Regions from separate parts of the Homo sapiens genome. Here all the other regions are reported to be linked to region 2. The links are microRNA targets in miRTarBase. Many come from high-throughput screens and were not tested one by one. Region 2 holds a microRNA gene; each other region holds the end of a gene's coding sequence.

Evidence for each region. The annotated mature microRNA hsa-miR-6882-5p reads UACAAGUCAGGAGCUGAAGCAG and lies in region 2 at 2,457-2,478, opposite strand. An mRNA with a match to its seed (bases 2 to 7 or 8) in the 3' UTR can be bound and repressed. Matches are read on the target gene's strand: a 7mer-m8 pairs with bases 2 to 8, a 7mer-A1 pairs with bases 2 to 7 and ends in A, and an 8mer does both.
Region 1: miRTarBase lists COX6A1 as a target of hsa-miR-6882-5p. Seed matches in the 3' UTR shown: 7mer-A1 at 447-453.
Region 3: miRTarBase lists CITED2 as a target of hsa-miR-6882-5p. Seed matches in the 3' UTR shown: 7mer-A1 at 3,731-3,737.

Annotation. Positions count from the first base shown.
Region 1 is chr12:120,440,200-120,444,327 of GRCh38, forward strand. It overlaps COX6A1 (cytochrome c oxidase subunit 6A1), which reads left to right. Exons shown (of 3, transcript NM_004373.4): 3 at 255-531. The coding sequence ends at 338. It overlaps TRIAP1 (TP53 regulated inhibitor of apoptosis 1), which reads right to left. Exons shown (of 2, transcript NM_016399.3): 2 at 3,765-4,128. Among named protein-coding and RNA genes, the nearest start is that of TRIAP1, 4.1 kb to the right of the region's middle.
Region 2 is chr15:74,838,225-74,842,369 of GRCh38, forward strand. MIR6882 (microRNA 6882) reads right to left here and starts at 2,483; the gene lies at 2,418-2,483. It overlaps ULK3 (unc-51 like kinase 3), which reads right to left. Exons shown (of 16, transcript NM_001099436.4): 2 at 4,056-4,145; 3 at 3,851-3,971; 4 at 3,181-3,285; 5 at 2,274-2,417; 6 at 2,010-2,092; 7 at 1,334-1,489; 8 at 1,044-1,149; 9 at 786-826; 10 at 419-521; 11 at 216-280; 12 at 42-120. RefSeq lists a silencer at 1,302-1,449 and an enhancer at 3,926-4,145.
Region 3 is chr6:139,369,258-139,373,402 of GRCh38, forward strand. CITED2 (Cbp/p300 interacting transactivator with Glu/Asp rich carboxy-terminal domain 2) reads right to left here. Exons shown (of 2, transcript NM_006079.5): 2 at 2,550-4,145. The coding sequence ends at 3,875. Among named protein-coding and RNA genes, the nearest start is that of CITED2, 3.3 kb to the right of the region's middle. RefSeq lists an enhancer at 1-380 and a silencer at 4,100-4,145.

The DNA of each region.
Region 1 (4,128 bases), not on the chromosome of region 2:
TGAGCTTGCATTTTCTGCCATCCATATTTGTTTCTGGAATTAAAACTGTCCTGTAGCCAGGATAACTTTAAGGGCTCCCCTGGTAGTTATAAGAGCTCCTTAAATAATGGGAAGGTTGAACTACACCAGTAGATAAAGGACTAATTTCCATTTTGTTTTTATATATGATCTGTCACCCCGTTATAAGCAGTTCATGACGGTGTTCTTTCTAAATTATTTTCTGGAATTATCTAACTGACATCTTCACTCCACAGCCGTTTCCCTGGGGAGATGGTAACCATACTCTATTCCATAACCCTCATGTGAATCCACTTCCAACTGGCTACGAAGATGAATAAAGAGAATCTGGACCACTACCCGGGCACCAGGGACCACAGCACTGGTTTGGACCGTTACTCTGCACATGGACCAGAAAAAGTATATGGGACCTTAAGCTCACCTTCTTTACTTGTATCAAATGATGACTGGTATACTGGTCTCCCATCCCTTTGCTTGTGGCAGGAGATGGCTTAAATAAATAACTTAAATTTAGATTGGTCATGAGCTGAGAGTTACTTTCTTTGGTTGTGTTTTTTCGCAGAAATTAGCATTTGAGCTTCAAGTCAGTGTCCAAGTTGAAAAGAAATTGGCATTAGTTATTTCTGTTTCCACAGTGAAGGTCTAGGCTGCTGTTTAGTGTTACAGGTCCAATTCAGCCCATTGAATAAGTGTTTATAACAGCCCCTCTTGGTTTATTGTGCCTGATGTGGATAAAGGGACCAAGTGGAGTGGTGCTAATTAAGCATCAAGATTAGTCCTTGGTCAGGTGCGGTGGCTCATGCCTGTAATCCCAGCACTTTGGGAGGCTGAGGCTGGCAGATCACCTGAGGTCAGGAGTTGGAGATCAGCCGGGCCAACATGATGAAATCCTGTCTCTACTAAAAATACAAAAATTAGTTGGGTGTGGTGGCGCACTCCTATAGCTGGGTGTAGAGGCTTGAACCCGGGAGGTGGAGGTTGCAGTGAGCCAAGATCGTGCCACTGCACTCCAGCCTGGGCAACAGAGTGAGACTCTGTCTCAAAAAACAAAAGATTGGTCCTTGACGGGCCTGAGATATCAAAGACATTGAATGGCTAGCAGAATGCCTGCAATTTACACCTGAAAGAGGTATCTGTATTTCTCAAGAGGAAGTGCTTGATCTGGGTCTCATCTTTTTCCTGTCCCATTCCACTAGCATTTACTGCAGAATCTTCCCTGTAGTCATAATTTTCTTGAACATGTCAAGTTCTTTTTTTTCTTTTTTTTTGAGACGGAGTCTCTCTCTGTTGCCCAGGCTAGAGTGCAGTGGCACGATCTCCACTCACTGCAAGCTCTGCCTCCCAGGTTCAAGCCATTCTCCTGCCTCAGCCTCCCGAGTAGCTGGGACTATAGGCACCCGCCACCACACCCAGCTAATTTTTTGTATTTTCAGTAGACACAGGGTTTCACCATGTTAGCCAGGATGGTCTCGATCTCCTGACCTCGTGATCCACCCGCCTCAGCCTCCCAAAGTGCTGGGATTACAGGCGTGAGCCACCGTGCCTGGCCTCGAATGTGTCAAGTTCTTACTTTGAGGTAATCTCCTTCAGGGCTGGTAGGGTCAGAAATCTTAAGAGAAACAAAGGGAGCGTGACACATTTCTGCTTATTGGCTTTTCTGTGGAATTAAAACTATCCTGCTTTAATGGATAGTAAATGGTAGTAGTAGTAGTTACAAAACCACTCTGAGAGGGCAATTATTATTATTATTATTATTATTATTTTTTTTTTTTTTTTTTTTTTTTTGAGATGGAGTCTCGCTCTGTCGCCCAGGCTGGAGTGCAGTGGCGGGACCTCGGCTCACTGCAAGCTCCACCTCCCGGGTTCACGCCATTCTCCTGCCTCAGCCTCCCAAGTAGCTGGGACTACAGGCGCCCGCCACTACGCCCGGCTACTTTTTTGTATTTTTAGTAGAGACAAGGTTTCACATGTTGGCCAGGCTGGTCTTGAACTCCTAACCTCAGGTGATCTGCCCACCTCAGCCTCCCAAAGTGCTAGGATTACAGGTCTGAGCCACTGTGCCTGGCCAGAGCTGGTTTATTTTATTTTATTTTATTTTTTGAGACAGAGTTTCGCTTTTGTTGCCCAGGCTGGAGTGCAATGGCATGATCTTGGCTCACCACAACCTCCACCTCCCAGGTTCAAGCAATTCTCCTGCCTCACCCTCCTGAGTAGCTGTGATTACAGGCATGTGCCACCACACCTGGCTAATTTTTTGTATTTTAAGTAGAGATGGGGTTTCTCCATGTTGGTCAGGCTAGTCTCAAACTCCCAACCTCAGGTGATCTGCCCACCTCAGTCTCCCAAAGTGCTGGGATTACTGGCGTGAGCCACCGCGCCCAGCCAGCTGGTTTATTCTTAAGGCTCAAAGGAACACTTTCGTGGTAAGGTTCAAGAGGCAACAAGGTATTTCATATTATATTACATTAAACTGGTAACGCAAAAGTAAGGCATATACAGTACGGAATAGAGAATCTCATTGTCTTTGCCATTTTGTAATAATTAACGGAATAGAGAATCTCATTGTCTTTGCCATTTTGTAATATTACAGCCTGCACTTCTGAGTCCCTATAGAGCTGTTTTGGTTGTGGCCAGTCTGAGTTTAGGACAGATGCATTATACTTCAGCTTGCTGCCTGGCCTCCCTTGGCTGGGTTCCAAACATCTTTTATAATCCTTGGATAATGGACCCTAGCCAGTCATAAAATATAAATGAAGAATGTTTTGAAATGACATTAAGGACAAGTCACATTAAATATGATGTAGCAATTGGTAAAGTGGAGAAAAGACAATAGAATTAGGGCCTTCTATAAATCAAGTTTCTTGGTTTATTTTTCAGACAGGGTCTTGCTGTGTCACCCAGCCTGGAGTGCAGTGGTACAATCACAGCTCACTGCAGTCTCCACCTCTCAGGCTCAGGTAATTCTCCCACCTCAGCCTTTAGAGTAGCTGGGACTACAGGCACACACCACCATACCCAGCTAATTTTTTTGTAGAGACAGGGTTTCGCTATGTTGCCCAGGCTGGTCTCAAATTCCTGAGCTCAAGTGATCCGCCCATCCCAGCTTCCCAAAGTGTTAAGACTACAGGCATGAGCCACCATACCCGGCCTGTAATTCAAGTTTCATACTACTTTGGGTATCTAATAAAACCAAATTACTCAATTAATTGTGGGGATTACGTGACATTCTGAGGTAAGTAAGTGCTCTCCTGATCCTTTTTTGGTACCGTAGTGTATTTGTATAGCCTATTGTGGAAATTTTAGAAATCAGTGAGGTTTTGGCTGGGTGCGGTGGCTCATGCCTGTAATCCCAGCACTTCGGGAGGTCAAGAGTTCAAGACCAGCCAACATGGTGAAACCCCATCTCTACTAAAAATACAAAAACTAGCTGGGCATGGTGATGCATGCCTGTAATCCCAGCTACTTGGGAGACTGAGGCAGGAGAATCATTGGAACCCAGGAGGTGGAGTTTGCAGTAAGACAAGATTGCGCCACTGCACTCCAGCCTGGGTGACAGAACCAGACTGTCTCAAAAAAAAAAAATGTGAGGTTTCTGATTGCCATACTGTACCACCTAGCTTAAGACAAGTCACTTTTTCTTCACCTTTAAGTTACAAAACACAAAACTCTCCCCACTGTATATATGAGGTTTGTAGGGTAACAGGGTAATAGTTCCATAAAATGCACTGAGTTCCAGAGGCAAATAATGATAGAAACTAAATGTTACAATTTATTCCATCTTCAGGATTACAGACATTACAGGGCAGGATGAGTAAACAAGGCAAATGAAGCGAGCACCTTCAGCTTCCCCCCTACCCCGACATTTAACCAGATGCAGCATTTTGACATTTTTAGGATATGCAGGTTGACAATTCACTGACTTGGGTTGAGAGCTGGCAATAGCAGATCTTTGCAATTTAGGTTCTTCCTCCACAGCTATTCCAAGTATCTTAATTCCTGAACTGCACACTGAGAGCTCTGAAATGGTGTTCACTGCAACATTCTTGCAGCTTTCACATCTTAATCTGACACCTCTTGTGAAGGCAGGGAACTGTGTTAAAAGCTGTCTTC
Region 2 (4,145 bases):
TGGCCAGAGGCCCTGTGGGGGGCATAAATGGGGGCCCTCACCTGCCAGCAACAGCAGTAGCTCCCCCAGGCTGTGCTGGTACAGGTCCAGGGCATCCTGCTCCCCGCCGGCGGCCTCCTCCTGCAGCCACAAGGACACCAGGCTGCTTAGGGTCATGGCCTGGGTATCTCCCTGCCCTGCCCCGACCCACCTGGACCCCTCCCACTGGCACAAACCTTGGCCATGGCAGCTGAAGCCACTTCCAGGGCAGCTAGGAGGCGTGGCTTGTCCCGGGCCATCTCTGAGATGAGGGGAAAGGCTCAGGGTGAGGGAAGCAACCTGCCTGTTCGCTGCAGGATGCCTCTCCCCACCCGCCTCCCCCTCAGGCTGTGGGGAGGTTTGCTGGGGGCCCTGGGGTCAGCCAGAAACCGGAGTCTACCTCTGAGCAGGTCTCGGGCAGAGGTCCCCTGCCTCAGCAGGGCCTGATTGGAAGAGGAGACGATGGCCTTGAGCTCCTCAGCCCGGGACACGTACTGCCCCACCTGTAGCAGGGAAAGGGCCTGAGGAGGGGCTGTCTCACCAGCTACCCTTGCCAGAACCCACCTCCAAGTTCTCCCTTTGCATTGTTAGTGACTGCCTCAAGCTATAAACATGTCAGGGGGCAAATGTGGCTGGCCTGACCCATTCCCAGCTCTGTGTTGCAGGAGAGGAAGTTCCAATTCTAAGAGAGCCATTCCCCAGAGGCCCCCGAGATCTCCGGGCCTTACCCCCTGCCCCCCCACTTCCTCATGGGGACTCTCACCCACCTTTGCCTTAATTGCCTCCTTCCGCTGGGCATCCACTTCATCTGCAGAAAGTGAGGTCATATGAGGAGTCTGGGCGAACCCCTCCCTGCCCCACAACGAACCCTCTGGAATCCCTCAAAACACAATATTCCAGGTTTACGCTCTGCTTTATCGCCTACAAAATTCTAGATAGAGAACTTCTGGAATCCACCTACTGCAGCCACAGATGACTCCCATCCCTGCTGCACCCACGGGCTTCAGGCATGGCCTGGGACTCACAGTGCAGGGCAGGTACAAAGAAGTCCAGAGCCTTGCAGTAGAGTGATAAGGCAGCTGCTGAATCCCCCTCCTGGTCTTTCTTCACAGCCTGCACCACCAGGGCGGTCTGGGGATGGGCAGATCAGGGGTCAGGTCCACCTCCCTACCCTCCCACACTCACCAAGATGGGAGATCAGCTCCCCTGAGCCCGCCCTCTGTCTCTGTTGGGTGAGTCACCAATTCACCACCAACGGGGGCAAGGAGACCTCCAGCCCACCCTCAGCCCACCCCAGCCCCAGCCGTCTGCTCACTGCTCGCCCCAGACTCTCCCCACTGGGCATGTGCTCCAGGTCCACCCAGGGGTGCGCAAAAAAGTCCTGGAAGGAGATGCGACGGCTGGGGTCCCGCTCCAGGAGCCGCTGCAGTAGGTCCCGGCAGTCTCGGGAGAGCAGGGGCCGCAAGGGGAGCTGCAGGGAAGGGAACGGCAGGGACAGATCACACTGGGCTCCTCCACCCCTACCCCTAGCCCAGGGGTCTGCGAGGAACCCCAGAGGTACGCGTTGGACAGGTGGGGAATCTGAGACCGAGGAGGAACAGGATGGGTCAGGATGATGGAGCCAGCGGGGAGCGAGGCCTCCATCCCTGGGCTCCCGGTGCACCCTCGCTGGAGCCCTGAGCTGAGCTAGAATCGTGTTTCTGGGTCCTTATTTCCCTCCCTGGACTATGCTCCTAGGAAGGCTGGGCCTGGCTCTGCTTTGCATTCTCCCCACAAGGGCCTGCAAAATGGGCACTGTGCTGCCAGCTGTGGGCTGACCTGAGGCCCTGGGACAGCCTGGCACCTCGACTTCCAGCCTAGAACCTGCCCCTCCACCACAAAGGCAGCCTGGAGCCCATACTCCAGTCTCTGCAGGTCAGAACGAGGTCTAAACCCTCAGGGCCCTGACTCCCTCTGCCCCCCAGTGGTCGCTAAGGCCCTGCTAGACACACCTCGATGACCCGGTTGCTACGGATCTTCTCTTCCAGCTCCGAGAACGACCTGGAGGCAAAGGGGGGCTGCCCGAAGAGGGCTTCTGTGGAAGGGAGGCAGAGCGGAGGCTGGGAGGGAATGGGTCAAGCCTGGCCTGACGCCCCTCAGCAGGGGCCCTGGGCCAGCAGTCAGTTTTCATCAGAACCCTTCAGAAGTGGCCCAGAGAGGCCTTGCCTGAGGAAACTGTAGGCCTCAGGGTGAGAAGCAGGGAAAAGAGGTCTCACCATACAGGATGACCCCCATGGACCAGAGGTCCACGCGGGCGTCATACTGCCGCTGGCACACCATCTCGGGGGCCATGTAGAGGGGGGAGCCACGGAGCACGTGCTTCTCATCCCACGGGGACATGTGTTGTGCGAAACCAAAGTCTGCAGGCAAGAGGAGAGGCAGCAGGGCTTGAATTCCAGCTGCTTCAGCTCCTGACTTGTAAAGCCTCACCCCAGGCTCCTCTCCACCCTCCAGACCCGCCAGGATCAACCCTATTTCCAAGCCTCTGCTCATCATTAGGCTGGAACACCCTCCTATATCTGCCTCTGGGGTATAAAACCTACCCATCCTTCCCAGCTCCCTTGGGCACCTTTTCCTAGGAAGCCCACCTGATCACACCAGCTACCTGCATAAGCCCCCACCCTCTCACTGTCCCCCCAGGCTTAGGTTCTATCACAGTCTCTGGCCTCCAGTGTCAATTATCCAAATCTTATCAAGGGTCACCACCTCCTACTCCCCCACCACACCCCTCCTATGTGGCCACAGATGGAGTCACAGACTTGAGCCCCAATTCTGATGACAGACCAAGTCCTGTCCCTGCCCACAGAGGGATCCCTGATGCTTGTCACACGCTGAACCCTGGCACTGTTCCCAGATTGACCCCTAAACCTGGACACACAGTGAGTCCCAACTCTGGCCACAGACTGAGCCCTAACTCCACCCATTATGCTGCTGGACTTGAGCATGGGTAGCCTGAGAAAGCTTCCACCTTTTGATGACAGGGCCCAACCCCAGACTTCACGGCCTGTCACTCTTTGAGGACTCTATAGAGGGCTCCATAAGAACCAGGGCTGCTGAGTGAGCCCAGGCAGAGGGAGGCCTCTGCACTCTCCAAACCTCATCCCTGCTGTTTCAGACACAGACCTGCCAGTTTTAGGTGGGGCTTCTCCAAGGAGCTCAGTAGAATGTTCTGTGGCTTCAGATCCAGGTGAGAGATATTCCGTTCATGCAGGAATTGCAGGGCGCTAGCTGAGGAGCAGGACCCACGAAGAGAGACAGTTCAGAGCCCATTCCCGCCTGCCTCTCGCCTCCCCGGCTCACATCTGCCTCCTCAAGCCTGCACAACCCCAGTTCCTGCCTGGCTGGTCTAATGTTTTCCATATAAGCACCAAGATCACACCACTTCTAGGAGTTTGCCACCCCACCCGAGTGCCCACCCTCCTTCCCTCTGCCCCTTCACAAGTCTCCCCACCTCTCAGAAGCTTCTCTGGATGCCCCAGCCCTTGAGATCCTGCTCTTTTCCTTGGCACAGCACTTGAGTCCTACCTACAGGACTCTGGAATGTTCTACAAGGTCCTTATATTATGTTCTATGTATGGAAGCCTGAACACCCCACAGAGGGGTTACCCCCTCATCTCTCCCACAGCGTCCTTGAGCAAGGGTTGAGTGTATGAGATAAACAGGACCATAAAATTTCAGGCTGTGCAGGAGGCAGCTGCAATGCGTGCCAAGGCTCTAAGCCTGGGGGAGGGGTGGGATGGTGGGGGGCAGAGAACAAGGGACAGAGTGTCAGGCTGGTGTCACAGGCCTTTACCTAATTGCTGCATGAAGACACGCGCCACCTTCTCAGGCAGAATCCTGCGGGTATGGATGAAGCGAGACAGGTCGCCCCCTGCGCAAAACTCCATGATGAGGTAGATATTGTCACTGTCCCACTGTGTTTAGAGGCAGAGAGGCGGCCTGAAGAGAGTGTCCCTTCTCCAGCTCCCTTTGGCAGCGGCCCCGCCCCAGGCTCACACCTGAAAGTCTTTCAGCTGCACAATGTGGGGATGTCGAATGCCCTTGAGGATCTCAATCTCCGTGAGGAGGTTCTCCACCGATGCCTTGTT
Region 3 (4,145 bases), not on the chromosome of region 2:
TACCGTCAAATGCATTGTTATTTACCCTTACTGCAAATCAACAGTCCTGTTGTGGAGGCGCTGAGGGTTTGCCATCCCCTCAGTTTGCAGGCTAAAGCATCAGCCCAAACCACTGCTCCTTACACTTTTAAAAGAAAACCCCTTAGGTAATGCATATTTTCAAATATGAGGCAAATCTCAATTATGCACACTTAATCATAGGTTAAGGTTTTTGGTAAGTAAAATATTCTTATTTTATAAAGGATGTTTATTTTGGAATCTTCTTTGATTTAAAAAATGTGTTGCTCGAATATGTGCTGTTTGCTCAAAGAAGAAAACAAAGTCTTCAGAAATGGCAACAAAACAAACAAAAAAGCGAAAAAGCTCTTGAGGAAACAGCTTTTCATTGACCTTCTAAATAAATTCCACAAGGGGGCGAAAACACCTAATGGTCCGGGGCTGCAAAGTTTTTATTGCAAAGCTGGCCACCCATAATAGATTAGTGGATTAATATTTTTCTCTAAAGGATCTGGCCTTTAATGTTGACATCAATTTATAGCCATCCCAGGCGTTTACAGTAGTAAAAGTCATGGAGACCATAAACTTCACAATAGATGTCAGCCTTCTGCTACTAGTGCTCTAGCCCAGCACCCCATAAACAGTGGTGATTAGGTAACTGTTCTTCAAAGACCCATCCATAGCTCTAACGTCTTTATCAGCTCCCGCAAAGATACTGTCACGAGGATTTTATCAGGCACAAGACAGAAGTATACGTTTTTATTAATGTGGACTTATTTTTCTGACATGTAGCTATGAGGTTGCACTGCAGCTTATCATTGATCTCTTCTTGAAAATCAAGCATGGAGTGTCTATTTTTGGGCAAAGCTTAAAGAACAGAAGCTCTCTTGTATCATATTAGAACTTTTTGACAAACAGCCAAGGTACAGAGGTCAAATTTCCCCATATGCTATAAGCAACTTAGTAGGAAGCAAGACCACAAAAGGTTTTGCAAATGTCTGCCAGTAGCCGGGTGATCTAGGTCACTGTACAGGTTTCATTAATCAGGTTGTTGAAACAAGGAGTTATTTTTCTCTGCTTAAGAGACCTGCAGATATCATGTAGAATCTGCTCAATTGTTGATCAAGAAAGAGTTTTTAATGAAACAGAGATCACTCAAGTGAACTGGGGTGCGGGAGCGTTTGTATTTGTACTGAAGACAAATTGTGCTTTTTAGCCCAGCTCCTCTGTTTGAGTCCTCTGTTCTGGTAGGGATGGGCTCAAGATCTAATAATAGTTCCTTGGGCTCTGCATCTCCACATACGTGTTCCGGCGTTTGAGCAGCAGGAGGAATTTAGTGACAGAGCAGGTGTTGTGGCTTATTCCCTGGCAGAATAAATGGTGAAGGGTGGTGGCAAGACAATTCTTTGGCTTCTTTATGCAAAAAAAAAAAAAAAAATGCATTTAATCACTTTCCTTTTTTCCTGGCACTAGTGAAAAAGGATTGGAGTTGCTGTATTAATATGTATGCAAACATATTTTTTCACTTAAGCCTCTGGAAAAAAAAAAGAGAGAGAGAGAAAGAAAAACTTACTGTGAAAATGCTTAGCCAGAAAGATTCATTGCTGATTGCAGATTTAGTATTGACATGTCTTAGCTGAAGAAAACTTCAGCTTTAACTATTAATGTGGAAATCTGGATCAGCTTTTAAAGTAGGGTAAAAAGAGTTTTGGATGATTCAGTATATTTATTTGAACATAATTTTAAAGAAGAAAGTGTCAATTATAGAGGTATATAAAAAACCCAGTGGAGTGTGTGCATTTTAATTTTACATGGCCTACCTTGGAAATAAAATTATAAAATGCAGGTGATCTGAATTATACTTAAAGCAGCCTTTATGCCCAACTTACTCTCTCATAACACTTCTAAATATCCGCTCCTCCTGATTTCTTATAAAATATGGAATTTAAGATGAGAATCGGAGTCTAAATGAAATGTTCTTTTAAAGCATTATTTATAAGATTTTCCTCAACCTACATTTTTTACTTCCCCTAGTAAGTTGCGTACAAAAGTCTGTATTTTTTCTTGAAGGTAGGTGTGTTGCTCTTATAAACATAAGATAAGCCATGAAAACATGAAAAACAAAATTCCTTCTCCTTCCACCTGGGATAATTTGAGATTTTCACAATATTACTTTTTCCTTTGCTTGATTATATAAGGCAAAACTTGATACCCACTTAGTTGTAGCTATGGTCTTCTTGATAAGACATCTATCCAGGTAAAATTAAAGTATAATTTTCAGGTGATTTGCATCCCATGCATGCAACAGGAAAACTCAGAATTCAGGAAAACAGGGCATGCTTAAGAGGGAACATCTTGTAAAGACTGTAATTTGACCTTTGAGTCAACCTGAGTACATTTTAAATATTATAGGACAAAAGCCTCAAAGTGGAATTCTGCCTCATCTTTCTCAGAACTATAAACCAGTCAGACACTGTTTCAGAGATTACGCTAGAAAATATGTACCTATCCTTGGCACTTTTGCTGAGAAATAAAACTCTCATCACTGGAGATAAAGGTAGATTTATATTTAATGCCACCCATCAATCAATCAGTGTATTATTCCAATCTACCTCTATTTAAGTAGTTGAATCAGGTATAAACAGAAACACTTGATTTTTTTTGCCTCCTGCCCATTGAAAAAGATAATGTTGAGTATTGCAAACCTTTCTAACTCTGGAGTACACTTGATATGATGGCAATTAAGAAAAAAAAAAAAGCAGTGACAACTTTGCAGCTTTTGATTAAAGCACACCAAGAGGCATGTTACAATGATAACAATGAAGCATTATGCCAATTATGTTAAATCCTGCTCTCCGCTTAAGCTCATCATGACCTGTTTTAGTGTCCTGTAATTTATCCTTTGGAATGCTTACTCTCATCAATAGTGTTCAACTCAAAGACGGGGGGAAAAAAGCCACCAAAGGGAACAACCACCCCCAAATGACTTCTAGAAAACAAGTTATTTCTTAACTTTTTATTGACATTGGCAAATTAAAATAGAATAAATTAACAAGTATTTTTTCAAAAAAATGTTTTGTACAAAAATACTGTCAAAATTTCCTAAAAAGCTTTCAACACAGTAGTATCTTTTCATGTACTGAATATAACTATTAGCACAGTGTCAAAAATGTTGAAGACAGAAACAAAATAAAAATCTGTGAAATGTTTGCCACTGACGACATTCCACACCCTATTATCATCTGTACATATGGGGGTGGGGGGGGCGGCGGGGGGGACAGCCAACTTGAAAGTGAACAGTATGACTTTCCTGATCCAGAACAGTTTGGCCCACATCTGTTTAATCTTCCAGTTTAGCATATTTTAAAAATTAGTCTGTACTCAAATGCATAGTTAAAAAAATGAAGCGAGATGGCAGTTTGTGCAGTAATATCTGCCCTTCGAAGTTCATGCAACCAACTAATGCAATTTTTCCTTTCACTCGTAAATCTGAATGCAGTTCAGTCATTTGAAACCATCTACAAAATCCACAAGATTAAGCAGTTTGCCAAGATTAATATCTAACAGTTGAGCACTGGAGAAAGTGAGGGAAAGGAGTAAAAACAAACAACGAAAAAGACCAAGTTAGCTAGATATTTCAACTACATAAGGGAGGTGGGTGAATGTCAAGGCTACAAAAACGAAACAAAAACAGGAAAAAAAAGTGGCAGCAATTTTTTTTAAAACCAATTTGTACAAGTTTATAGTTTACTTTGTTTCCAAGTTCTCAAACCTTTCAAGATCTGAAAAGTGAGATACTGTGTCTAAGGGAATGTTTCTTTTAATTCACGCCGAAGAAGTTGGGGGTTTGATTTCTTTCGCCGGGGTTTCGATCGAGTCAACAGCTCACTCTGCTGGGCTGCTGTTTGCACACGAAGTCCGTCATAAAATCAAACTCGTTTTGCCCCAGCCAGAGTTCGGGCAGCTCCTTGATGCGGTCCAAACCCATTTCTATCACCAAGGACATAAGAACTTCCTCGTCGATGAAATCAGTGTCTATGACATTGGGCGGCAGCATTGCAGCGGGGACGTGGGCCACGGAGGCGGGCATGTTGCCGCTGCCGCTGCCGCCGCCGCTGTTGCTGCTGCCCGCGCCGCCGCCCGAGCTG